Linked DNA regions of Homo sapiens: region 1 is linked to region 2. Evidence: fine-mapped expression QTL. A gene starts in region 2. The other region holds a variant in brackets. All regions are shown on one strand. Distances are from middle to middle. Region 1 overlaps PRH1-TAS2R14 (PRH1-TAS2R14 readthrough). Region 2 holds the start of TAS2R14 (taste 2 receptor member 14).

The links. PIP is the estimated chance that this variant, and not a neighbour inherited with it, causes the effect.
Region 1: its variant is the best candidate, but not a certain one, in a credible set for the expression of TAS2R14 in blood mononuclear cells (TOPMed, PIP 0.72).

The regions. Positions count from the first base shown.
Region 1 is chr12:11,145,515-11,150,907 of GRCh38, forward strand. All of the region lies in intron 1 of PRH1-TAS2R14 (PRH1-TAS2R14 readthrough), which reads right to left. The region is part of intron 1 of PRH1-PRR4 (PRH1-PRR4 readthrough); the gene reads right to left. It also overlaps a transcript of PRH1 not described here. Among named protein-coding and RNA genes, the nearest start is that of TAS2R30, 14 kb to the left of the region's middle. The variant C/T (reference allele first, on the strand shown) is at 2,380.
Region 2 is chr12:10,936,994-10,942,386 of GRCh38, forward strand. It overlaps TAS2R14 (taste 2 receptor member 14), which reads right to left and starts at 2,270. Exons shown (of 1, transcript NM_023922.2): 1 at 417-2,270. The coding sequence starts at 2,214. The coding sequence ends at 1,261. It overlaps PRH1-TAS2R14 (PRH1-TAS2R14 readthrough), which reads right to left. Exons shown (of 5, transcript NM_001316893.2): 5 at 417-1,584. The coding sequence ends at 1,261. The region is part of intron 4 of PRH1-PRR4 (PRH1-PRR4 readthrough); the gene reads right to left. It also overlaps a transcript of PRH1 not described here. RefSeq lists an enhancer at 4,917-5,393 and a silencer at 4,924-5,124.

The DNA of each region.
Region 1 (5,393 bases), 210 kb after region 2:
TGTTCCTCACTGATACATAATCCCTCAATATTAGAATTTCTCAAATTAAATTCCTGAAAATGTTAGAATTAAAAGGTATTTTCTAAAACAGAAAAGGATTTCACAGAAAAGGAAATTTGGGAAACTCCACATAGAGCACTTCCTTTTACATACTAACAGAGTATACAGAAAGCTTATGATTTAAAAACAAACAAAAAGGTTAAAGTCGCTTAAGCCAGCATTGCCTAAAATATTTAAAAATTAAGAACTTTTTTTTTGTAACAACTATGAATATTCTGCTGAACTCTGAGAAATTCTGCTCTATATCTCTTTTAATGACAAATGTGTATTCTGCTATAATGAAGCATTATAATGTTTTTAAGCATAAAAAATGTTAAGGCTTTTATCTTAATGTTAACAAACTATACATAGCTCTATAACTGTTTTTGCATATCTGTAATCATTTTATGATTATTTTTAGAAACGTTTCAGAAATATGTAGTTATACATGCATATCAAAAAGTATGTGTACATAGATACATAGATATAAAGTGTATGTATTTTTATGCTAAATTCGCTTTGACTATATCCTACTATATGCTTCTACCAGTAGTGAAAGAGATTTTTCATGTTTCTGAGCTTTTTACTATCTGGATACCTTTTTAGTATTTTTATAATATATTTTACCAACAGATGTTCCTCATTCTGTGCGTCTTTACACATTTTTTTTCTTTCAGTCTTTTTCTAGTATTCATTCTGCTTTATTCTTCTAGGTAGTTTTTTTACTGAATCTAAAGTGTTTCCCAGGCCCTTAGCATAATAAACTACTCTAAATGAGAAAAAAAATGGCAATATTTGCCTTAACATCTTACATGTATACCTGAATTTGGCAAGAATTGATGTCATCACAACAATGAGAATGTCATCTAAGAACATGATTTTTTTATTAGGTAAAATGAGTATTTTTAATTTCATCCATATATTCCTAGTTTTAATACTCTTTCTGTATTCATTATCAAATGCCTAGATGTATAATTAGACTAGAGTCAGACAGCTAACTTAGCTGGATTAATTAACAGATCTTTCCAAGGAATTTAAAACTTATCAAACTTTTCCTTTATGTTTCGTGGTTTTTGTATCTTTCAGATAAAATCCTCACCTACCCTGAATTTATAAAATAATTTACATTTTTCTTAGCTTTAAATTTTGTTCTTAATGTTTAGATCTTAGTCCTTTTGGACTATTTTTTGTGATACAAGTTACACACTGATTTTCCTCCTTATGAAAAGTCCATTATCCAAACAATTTACTGCAAAAAACACATCTTATCTACTAATTTCTAATGATAATCTTATTATAAGACAAATTACATGTGCACAAAAAGTAAATTACCTAAATATATTCTGCCTTACTATTCCCTTTTGTTGTCTATTGCATCCTTCTGTGCCAAAATTCTTTCAATTTTCATAATTACACTATAATAAATCTTGATACCCAGTAAAGAACTTACCTCCTTCTTTTTCCAAGTTTTCTTGCCTATCTCCGAACTGTTAATTTTCTATATGTATTTTTCAAGTCATTTTTCACAATTTTCACAAAACTTTAATAAGACTTTGCCACAACTTGCATTGACTATATTAATCTAGAAAGAAATTATATTTTATAATACTCAGTTTATCTATGAACATGATACATCTCTTCATGTATTGTTTTTGAAACAATGTCTCACTCCAGTTGCCCAGGCTGGAGTGCAGTGGCACGATCTCGGCTCACTGCAGCATCAGCCTCCCAAGATCAGATCCTCCCACCTCAGCTTACTGAGTAGCTGTGACTACAGGTGTGTGCCACCACACACCGCTAATTTTTGTATTTTTAGTAGAGACAGGGTTTCACCAGGTTTCCCAGGCTGGTCTCGAGCCCCTGGACTCAAGGAATCCACCTGCCTGGGCCTCCCAACATGCTGGGATTACAGACATGAGCCATGACACCTGGCCAAAGAATTTTTTAAATTTACATATTGTAATTTACTGTTGGCAATAGATACACTGTTTTTTGGTAAATCGATGTTATATGAAGAACCTTGTTATCTTTTCTTATGCTAATAGTACCTGTTGATTCTTTAGGAGTGTTCATTTAAGCAGTGACATCATCACATCATTATACTGTAAATTTGTCTATCTCATTCCAGTTCCTAGATGAGTTTATATTGCTTGTCCTATTACATTAGCTAAAAGTGCTAGAACAATGTTGAGTTCTACAGATGTTAAAGAGCATTTCTGCCTTATTTAAGATATCAGTGAACTTTAAAGTAGTTTTCCAATTCTGTGAAGAAAGTCATTGTTAGCTTGATGGGGATGGCATTGAATCTATAAATTACCTTGGGCAGTATGGCCATTTTCA[C/T]GATATTGATTCTTCCTACCCATGAGCATGGAATGTTCTTCCATTTGTTTGTATCCTCTTTTATTTCATTGAGCAGTGGTTTGTAGTTCTCCTTGAAGAGGTCCTTCACATCCCTTGTAAGTTGGACTCCTAGGTATTTTATTCTCTTTGAAGCAATTGTGAATGGGAGTTCACTCATGATTTGGCTCTCTGTTTGTCTGTTATTGGTGTATAAGAATGCTTGTGATTTTTGTACATTGATTTTGTATCCTGAGACTTTGCTGAAGTTGCTTATCAGCTTAACGAGATTTTGGGCTGAGACAATGGGATTTTCTAGATATACAATCATGTCGTCTGCAAACAGGGACAATTTGACTTCCTCTTTTCCTAATTGAATACCCTTTATTTCCTTCTCCTGCCTCATTGCCCTGGTCACAACTTCCAACACTATGTTGAATAGGAGTGGTGAGAGAGGGCATCCCTGTCTTGTGCCAGTTTTCAAAGGGAATGCTTCCAGTTTTTGCCCATTCAGTATGATATTGGCTGTGGGTCTGTCATAGATAGCTCTTATTATTTTGAGATACGTCCCATCAATACCTAATTTATTGAGAGTTTTTAGCGTGAAGGTTGTTGAATTTTGTCAAAGGCCTTTTCTGCATCTATTGAGATAATCATGTGGTTTTTGTCTTTGGTTCTGTTTATATGCTGGATTACATTTATTGATTTGCATATATTGAACCAGCCTTGCATCCCAGGGATGAAGCCCACTTGATCATGGTGGATAAGCTTTTTGATGTGCTGCTGGATTCGGTTTGCCAGTATTTTATTGAGGATTTTTGCATCAATGTTCATCAAGGATATTAGTCTAAAATTCTCTTTTTGGTTGTGTCTCTGCCCAGCTTTGGTATCAGGATGATGCTGGCCTCATAAAATGAGTTAGGGAGGATTCCCTCTTTTTCTATTGATTGGAATAGTTTCAGAAGGAATGGTACCAGTTCCTCCTTGTACCTCTGGTAGAATTCGGCTGTGAATCCATCTGGTCCTGGACTCTTTTTGGTTGGTAAGCTATTGATTATTGCCACAATTTCAGATCCTGTTATTGGTCTATTCAGAGACTCAACTTCTTCCTGGTTTAGTCTTGGGAGAGTGTATGTGTCAAGGAATTTATCCATTTCTTCTAGATTTTCTAGTTTATTTGCGTAGAGGTGTTTGTAGTATTCTCTGATGGTAGTTTGTATTTCTGTGGGATCGGTGGTGATATCCCCTTTATTATTTTTTATTGTGTCTATTTGATTCTTCTCTCTTTTTTTCTTTATTAGTCTTGCTAGCAGTCTATCAATTTTGTTGATCCTTTCAAAAAACCAGCTCCTGGATTCATTAATTTTTTGAAAGGTTCTTTGTGTCTCTATTTCCTTCAGTTCTGCTCTGATTTTAGTTATTTCTTGCCTTCTGCTAGCTTTTGAATGTGTTTGCTCTTGCTTTCGCCAAGTCAATCCTAAGCCAAAAGAACAAAGCTGGAGGCATCACGCTACCTGACTTCAAACTATACTACAAGGCTACAGTAACCAAAACAGCATGGTACTGGTACCAAAACAGAGATATAGATCAATGGAACAGAACAGAGCCGTCAGAAATAACGCCGCATATCTACAACTATCTGATCTTTGACAAACCTGAGAAAAACAAGCAATGGGGAAAGGATTCCCTATTTAATAAATGGTGCTGGGAAAACTGGCTAGCCATATGTAGAAAGCTGAAACTGGATCCCTTCCTTACACCTTATACAAAAATTAATTCAAGATGGATTAAAGACTTAAACATTAGACCTAAAACCATAAAAACCCTAGAAGAAAACCTAGGCATTACCATTCAGGACATAGGCATGGGCAAGGACTTCATGTCTAAAACACCAAAAGCAATGGCAACAAAAGACAAAATTGACAAATGGGATCTCATTAAACTCAAGAGCTTCTGCACAGCAAAAGAAACTACCATCAGAGTGAACAGGCAACCTACAGAATGGGAGAAAATTTTCGCAACCTACTCATCTGACAAAGGGCTAATATCCAGAATCTACAATGAACTCAAACAAATTTACAAGAAAAAAACAGACAACCCCATCAAAAAGTGGGCAAAGGACATGAACAGACACTTCTCAAAAGAAGACATTTATGCAGCCAAAAAACACATGAAAAAATGCTCATCATCACTGGCCATCAGAGAAATGCAAATCAAAACCACAGTGAGATACCATCTCACACCAGTTAGAATGGCAATCACTAAAAAGTCAGGAAACAACAGGTGCTGGAGAGGATGTGGAGAAATAGGAACACTTTTACACTGTTGGTGGGACTGTAAACTAGTTCAACCATTGTGGAAGTCAGTGTGGCGATTCCTCAGGGATCTAGAGCTAGAAATACCATTTGACCCAGCCATCCCATTACTGGGTATAAACCCAAAGGACTATAAATCATGCTGCTATAAAGACACATGCACACGTATGTTTATTGCAGCACTATTCACAATAGCAAAGACTTGGAACCAATCCAAATGTCCAACAATGATAGACTGGATTAAGAAAATGTGGCACATATACACCATGGAATACTAAGCAGCCATAAAAAATGATGAGTTCATGTCCTCTGTAGGGACATGGATGAAATTGGAAATCATCATTCTCAGTAAACTATGGCAAGGACAAAAAACCAAACACTGCATGTTCTCACTCATAGGTGGGAATTGAACAATGAGAACACATGGACACAGGAAGGGGAACATCACATTCTGGGGACAGTTGTGGGGTTGGGGGAAGGGGAAGGGATAGCATTAGGAGATATACCTAATGCTAAATGACGAGTTAATGGGTGCAGCACACCAGCATGGCTCATGTATACATATGTAACTTACCTGCACATTGTGCACATGTACCCTAAAACTTAAAGTATAATAATAATGAAAAAAGATATCAGTGAAAATATTTTTGTATTGATCCTCTATACCAGACTCCATTATATATTGCCCAGAAACACTTTCTA
Region 2 (5,393 bases):
CCCAGAACAAATTTTTAGCAAAGAATTCAGGATTACGGTTACATTCCTTAGCCCTTGAAAAAATGAATCAACTGTCTTCTGGCATACAGTTCTTTGACACAATTTTTCATGTTATTCAAACTGGGATTATCTTCCCCTTTTGGAGATTACCTCTCACTACCTTGCAGCTGCTTTCTGAATTCCCATTTGCCTCTAAGGTTGCAATTTTATTTCTCTCTCTCTCTCTCTCTCTCTCTCTCTGTGTGTGTGTGTGCGTGCGTGTGTATGAATATGTATATTGTATTTTATTAAATCTAGAATGCATAGACTAGAAGACATGTCATTGTTTTATGTACCACCATTAACAAGTATCATTATTTTAATTGGTCAGAGGAGAGGGAAAATATGATCATCTTAATAAACAGCAAAAAATTTGATAGTTTTTAACAGAGATTTTATTACAATACTATACACAGGAAGATAGGAAACAAATATTCTCCCTGAAGAATATTTTTAAAAGAATTTATCTCAAAGCTAGAGTCAGTATTACGTTTATTGTTAAAACACTAGAAAACACTCCATTTGCAAAGACAGCAGTTACGATCAGGATTACTTAACACTTTGAATGTTCAAACCATTTCATTATACAACTGATACCAAAAAAGAATTACAAGTAGTAAAATGGAGAAGTAAAATAATCATTATAAGTCACTATATGCAGATGATATAATTTTCTATCTGCAAAGCCAAGAGAATGAGCAAAGCAAATGTGGTAGTTTAGTAAGGCAGCTGGCTTCTAATTCAACAAACGAAGCAAATTACTTTTTTGCATACACGCTAATCAGGTACTAAATATTATACAAAAATTAAAAACACTTAATATAGGTACTAAAATTCCATATTCTTTTATGTACTTTATCTACCAGATTGAGATGTAAGTTTAAGAAGCCTATTTTTAGTAACTGTGTCACATACATACATACACACATGTATTTTATACATTATAGGTTTTCTCATTTAAAAATCTCAAAAAAGGTGAATGATTGATACAAAATCTATATTATCTGTTTGTATAAGAACTCTTTATAGTATTCGCATTCTTCTCTGTATGGTAATATACATACTTTCATATATCCTAATTTGTGATATGTTTGGATGGTGTTGATTCCAAGCATATCTTTGTAAAATTCACAAAGTTATACACAATGAAAGAATCTTAAGGAAGTATAAATTTATATAACATACAAGAATTTCTTAGGAGCTATTTTTTTTCTAATATATTCAAGATGATTCTCTAAATTCTTTGTGACCTGAGGGCTCCCCATCTTTGAACATGTACCTCAGCCACAGTAGCACTGACAGAGAGGCCTGTCTCAGCTTCTTGTTTCCAAGAATCAGAACACATGAGTGACATGAAGGATAAGCCATTCCCATCACCTGGGAAAGAATAATTAGATTTTCCTCCAACCTTTCAGAGGTCCAAACTGATATGAAAAAAGACAGAGAGAAAATGGCATAGAGTAGGAAGAAAGTGATCACACTTTTAACTCCTCTGTGGGCTTTGGTGCTGGCGTCTCCGGATATTTTGACAGTGTGCTGCATCTTCTTGCGATGTTTCCACATGGAGAAGATGAGGAGAAGAAACATTGCCAGGGACAAAGTAAAGGGTATGAAAATGAACACAGTGCTGGTTAATACAATAAGACTGGAAAATCGTGTAAAGTTACTTGAATCAGAACTGCAAGTCTTGTTTCTTCTGTATCCATTGATACTGGCATTTATATGGATGTTTATCAGTGCAATATTTAAAAACAAGAAGACCGAAGTCACAAGAAGCAGCACCAAAACCACCTTTTTAACCCTCCACTTTAGGTAGAGAAAAATAGAGTTAGAAAAATTGGCTATCTTGAGAAAATAAAAAGTACCGAGGCCTGTAGCTAACCAGACACTAAAATGATTGATCACTGTCCAGATATTAGTAAGCATTCTGAACATTTTTTCAGTGGCAAATAAAGCTGGGAAAAACACAGACACACACCAGCTTCCGAATATTAACCAAACCAGGCTAATTCGAGAGATTGCCAAAGCAGTGAGGATCCGATCAACCGAAGAGATCTTTCTTCCCTTGACCCAGTCAATACAGTTCACCAGTGCTATGAAACTATTTCCTAAATTTCCAATTATAAATTCCACAATTAAAACGAATGTAAATATGCTCTTTATGACACCACCCATTGCCTGTAAGAGCATGCCCCAATGTCTAATATCACTGCTGAAGACTTCTTAATGCATTCATCTAAAATGCTATGTATATCTGATTCTTGAAAATTCAATAATATATTCCCTTTAAAAAGGGAATGTTAAACCAGCAACCATCCAGATTTGCTAATGGCTGGGTTTAAAGCTCTCTTCATAAAAATCTCTGTATTTCCCCAGACAGCTCAGCTGAGCTTCATCCAGATGCTGTGTGCCTTATACACAGTAGGCTGAAGTCTTTTGTAGCTGGTGAGAAAGGAAACACTGAATTCTCATTTGTAAACATGCAAATAAGGACATATTTATTTTCATTGGTTTGTGTGTTTTTTTTTTTTTTTTTTGTCTTATCTACATACTTCAGTCTGTCAAATTGAGTTCTGGGGAAGTATCATTACAAAAATTGGTATATGAAACTTTGTAAGCACTGAGAATTTTTACATACTTCCGTGTTTGGGTGGAGAAAAATGGGGAGATGATGGTGAAAGTTTACAGAACCTCAGTTAGACAAGAGGAATAAGTTTTGTTCTGCTTTTCTGAGATCTATTGAACAGCATTGTGAATATGGTTAATAATAGTGTATTGTACATTACAAAATTGCTGAAAAAGTAACTTTCAAATATTCTCACCATAAAAAAATATTTGTTACCTGTTATCTGTTATATTTATTATCATTTGAATACGTTAATTAGTTTCATTTAATTATTCCACATAGTAGTCATAAATCATAACAACACCTGATACCTCATAAATGTATGCAAGTAAAATATGTCAATTTACAATAAAAATAAAGAAAATAAAGAAAAATCAGATGGTTTTTTAAAGTTAAGTCTGTAAAGGGACTTATTCATAGTTATCCAAAGCTCCTCCTACAAAGTAGCAGAGTTTTCTAATAATCTTGTGGAAGACATTATTCCTAGAATGCTGGGTACCAAGAATAATACTTTTCTATTATTTTACTTTTTACAAGTACATGCCCAGCAAACATGCGCGCACACACACAAACACACAAACGCATACATTTATTTGGGATCTAAATCTTTTTCTCTTTTCACTTAAATAATTCAGGCTTTTTACTTTCAGCATTTATTATGCATCTAGTTCATGTTTAGTACTGTGATAGTTTTAAACACATTTAAAAAGACTTGCAAGTTTATATTAAATAGTAATACATGTAAATATTCCGGAGACTTTGGAAATATTTTCTCTGTACATGTGAGAAGAGGTAGAAATCTATCTATTGTCTCATAAAGCAGTCATTGTGTTTGAATGAGTTCATCCACATGGCAAGAATTCTTATTCTGTGCCTCTCCCCTGCCCAGTAGGGCATATTGCTTCATCAGCACCAAATACCTTCACATTTTTTTCACATATACTCACTCTCCCAGCAACATCTACTCCATGATCCTCACTACAGGGACCAATGTAGATAAAGGATGACATACTGTCTAGCCAAGACGGGGAAATCAGCAGCATGATACAGTCATTCTTCTTCAATAGCTAAAAAAGTAAGTAAAGTGAGCAAAGCACCAATGAAACAAATTCAGCAACAGCTACCAAACAAAGTAGAAAAATATGCCTCATAAACGTCAAAGATGGCAGAGAAAGATGTAAGGTGTTCCACTATGAAGAACTGATCCCTCACCTTCAGTCCCCTGAAGCAAAGCTAAGCAAAAATAAAATAAAATAAAACCAAAATATCTTGGAAATTACCGTATATTTAGTCAAGAGAGCTATTGAAAAGGCAAACTCAGCTAGCATGGACAAATATTAAGGAAAAATCCCAAGGCTAGAAGTACAAACGTACTATCCACATAGAGACAAGAAGGTTACCCTGGCCTCGCTATATCCAGGCAATAAAGATGAGGTTGGGAAAGAAGACAAAGAGAAAGACAAACTACCATGGTGGGTGGGGGGTTGTGTGGTGGGTTCTGTTGAGACTTCATGGATACTTTGAAAAGAGAGCAGAGCTCACGTCTCCAGTGAGAGCTACAATAACCCCAGAGGGTCTCGCCCAAAGGACCTCAGCACTTGCATCATTCATGCTGGGTTGAAAACACTAGGTTTTCATTGGAACAACAGCTCTTAGGGAAAGGCAATCTTTTTCAGAAAAAGAGCAGCAAAAATAATAATTCCCACACACTACATCCAGAAATTAGAATAAAAACTCAGTTCCTCAGAGAAGAGCAGTGTCTTAATCCATTTCAGTGTCAAAGTTACATTTAGGTGTATACAGAACAGATTAGTGTGTTTCATTTTAACTTTTTTATGCATCAAAATTTATGTACTAACTGTATCAAATGTTTGAATTTATTTATTATTAAAATTTATTATTTATTTATTATTAAAATTTATTATTTATTATTAAAATTTATTTGAATATTTCTCCCTTCACTTCTTGTATCATATTTTTGGATTTCCTTGCATTGGGCTTCACTTTTCTCTGGTGCCTTTCTGATTAGCTTAATAACTAACCTCCTGAATTTTTTTTCAGGTAAATCAGGGATTTCTTCTTGGTTTGGATCCATTGCTGGTGAGCTAGTGTGATGTTTGGGGAGTGTTAAAGAGCCTTGTTTTGTCATATTACCAGAGTTGGTTTTCTGGCTCCTCCTCATTTGGGTAGGCTCTATCAGAGAAAAGATCTAGGGCTGAAGGCTGTTGTTTAGACTTTTTTGTTCCAGAGGGTGTTTCTTTGATGTAGTATTCTCCCTTTTTTCCTATGGATGTGGCTTCCTGACAGCTGAGCTGTAGTAATTGTTATCTCTCTTCTGGATCTAGTCACCAAGAAAGTCCACCAGGCTCCAGGCTGATATTGGGGTTGTCTGCACAGAGTCCTGTGATGTAAACCATCTGTTGGTCTCTCAACTGTGGATACCAGCACCTGTTCTGGTGGAGGTGGCAGGGGGGTGAAATGGACTCTGTGAGGGTTCTTAGCTTTGGGAGTTTAATGCTCTATTTTTGTGTGGTTGGCCTCCTACCAGGAGGTAGTTCTTTCTAGAGAGCATCAGCTGTGATAGTATGAAGAGGCACCGGCAGTGGGTAAGTCACTAGAACTCTCAAGAGTTTATGCCCTTTGTGCTCAGAATACCAGGGTGGGTAGGGAAGTACCATCAGGTGGGGCAGAGCTAAGCATGTCTGAGCTCAGACTCACTCTCTCCTGC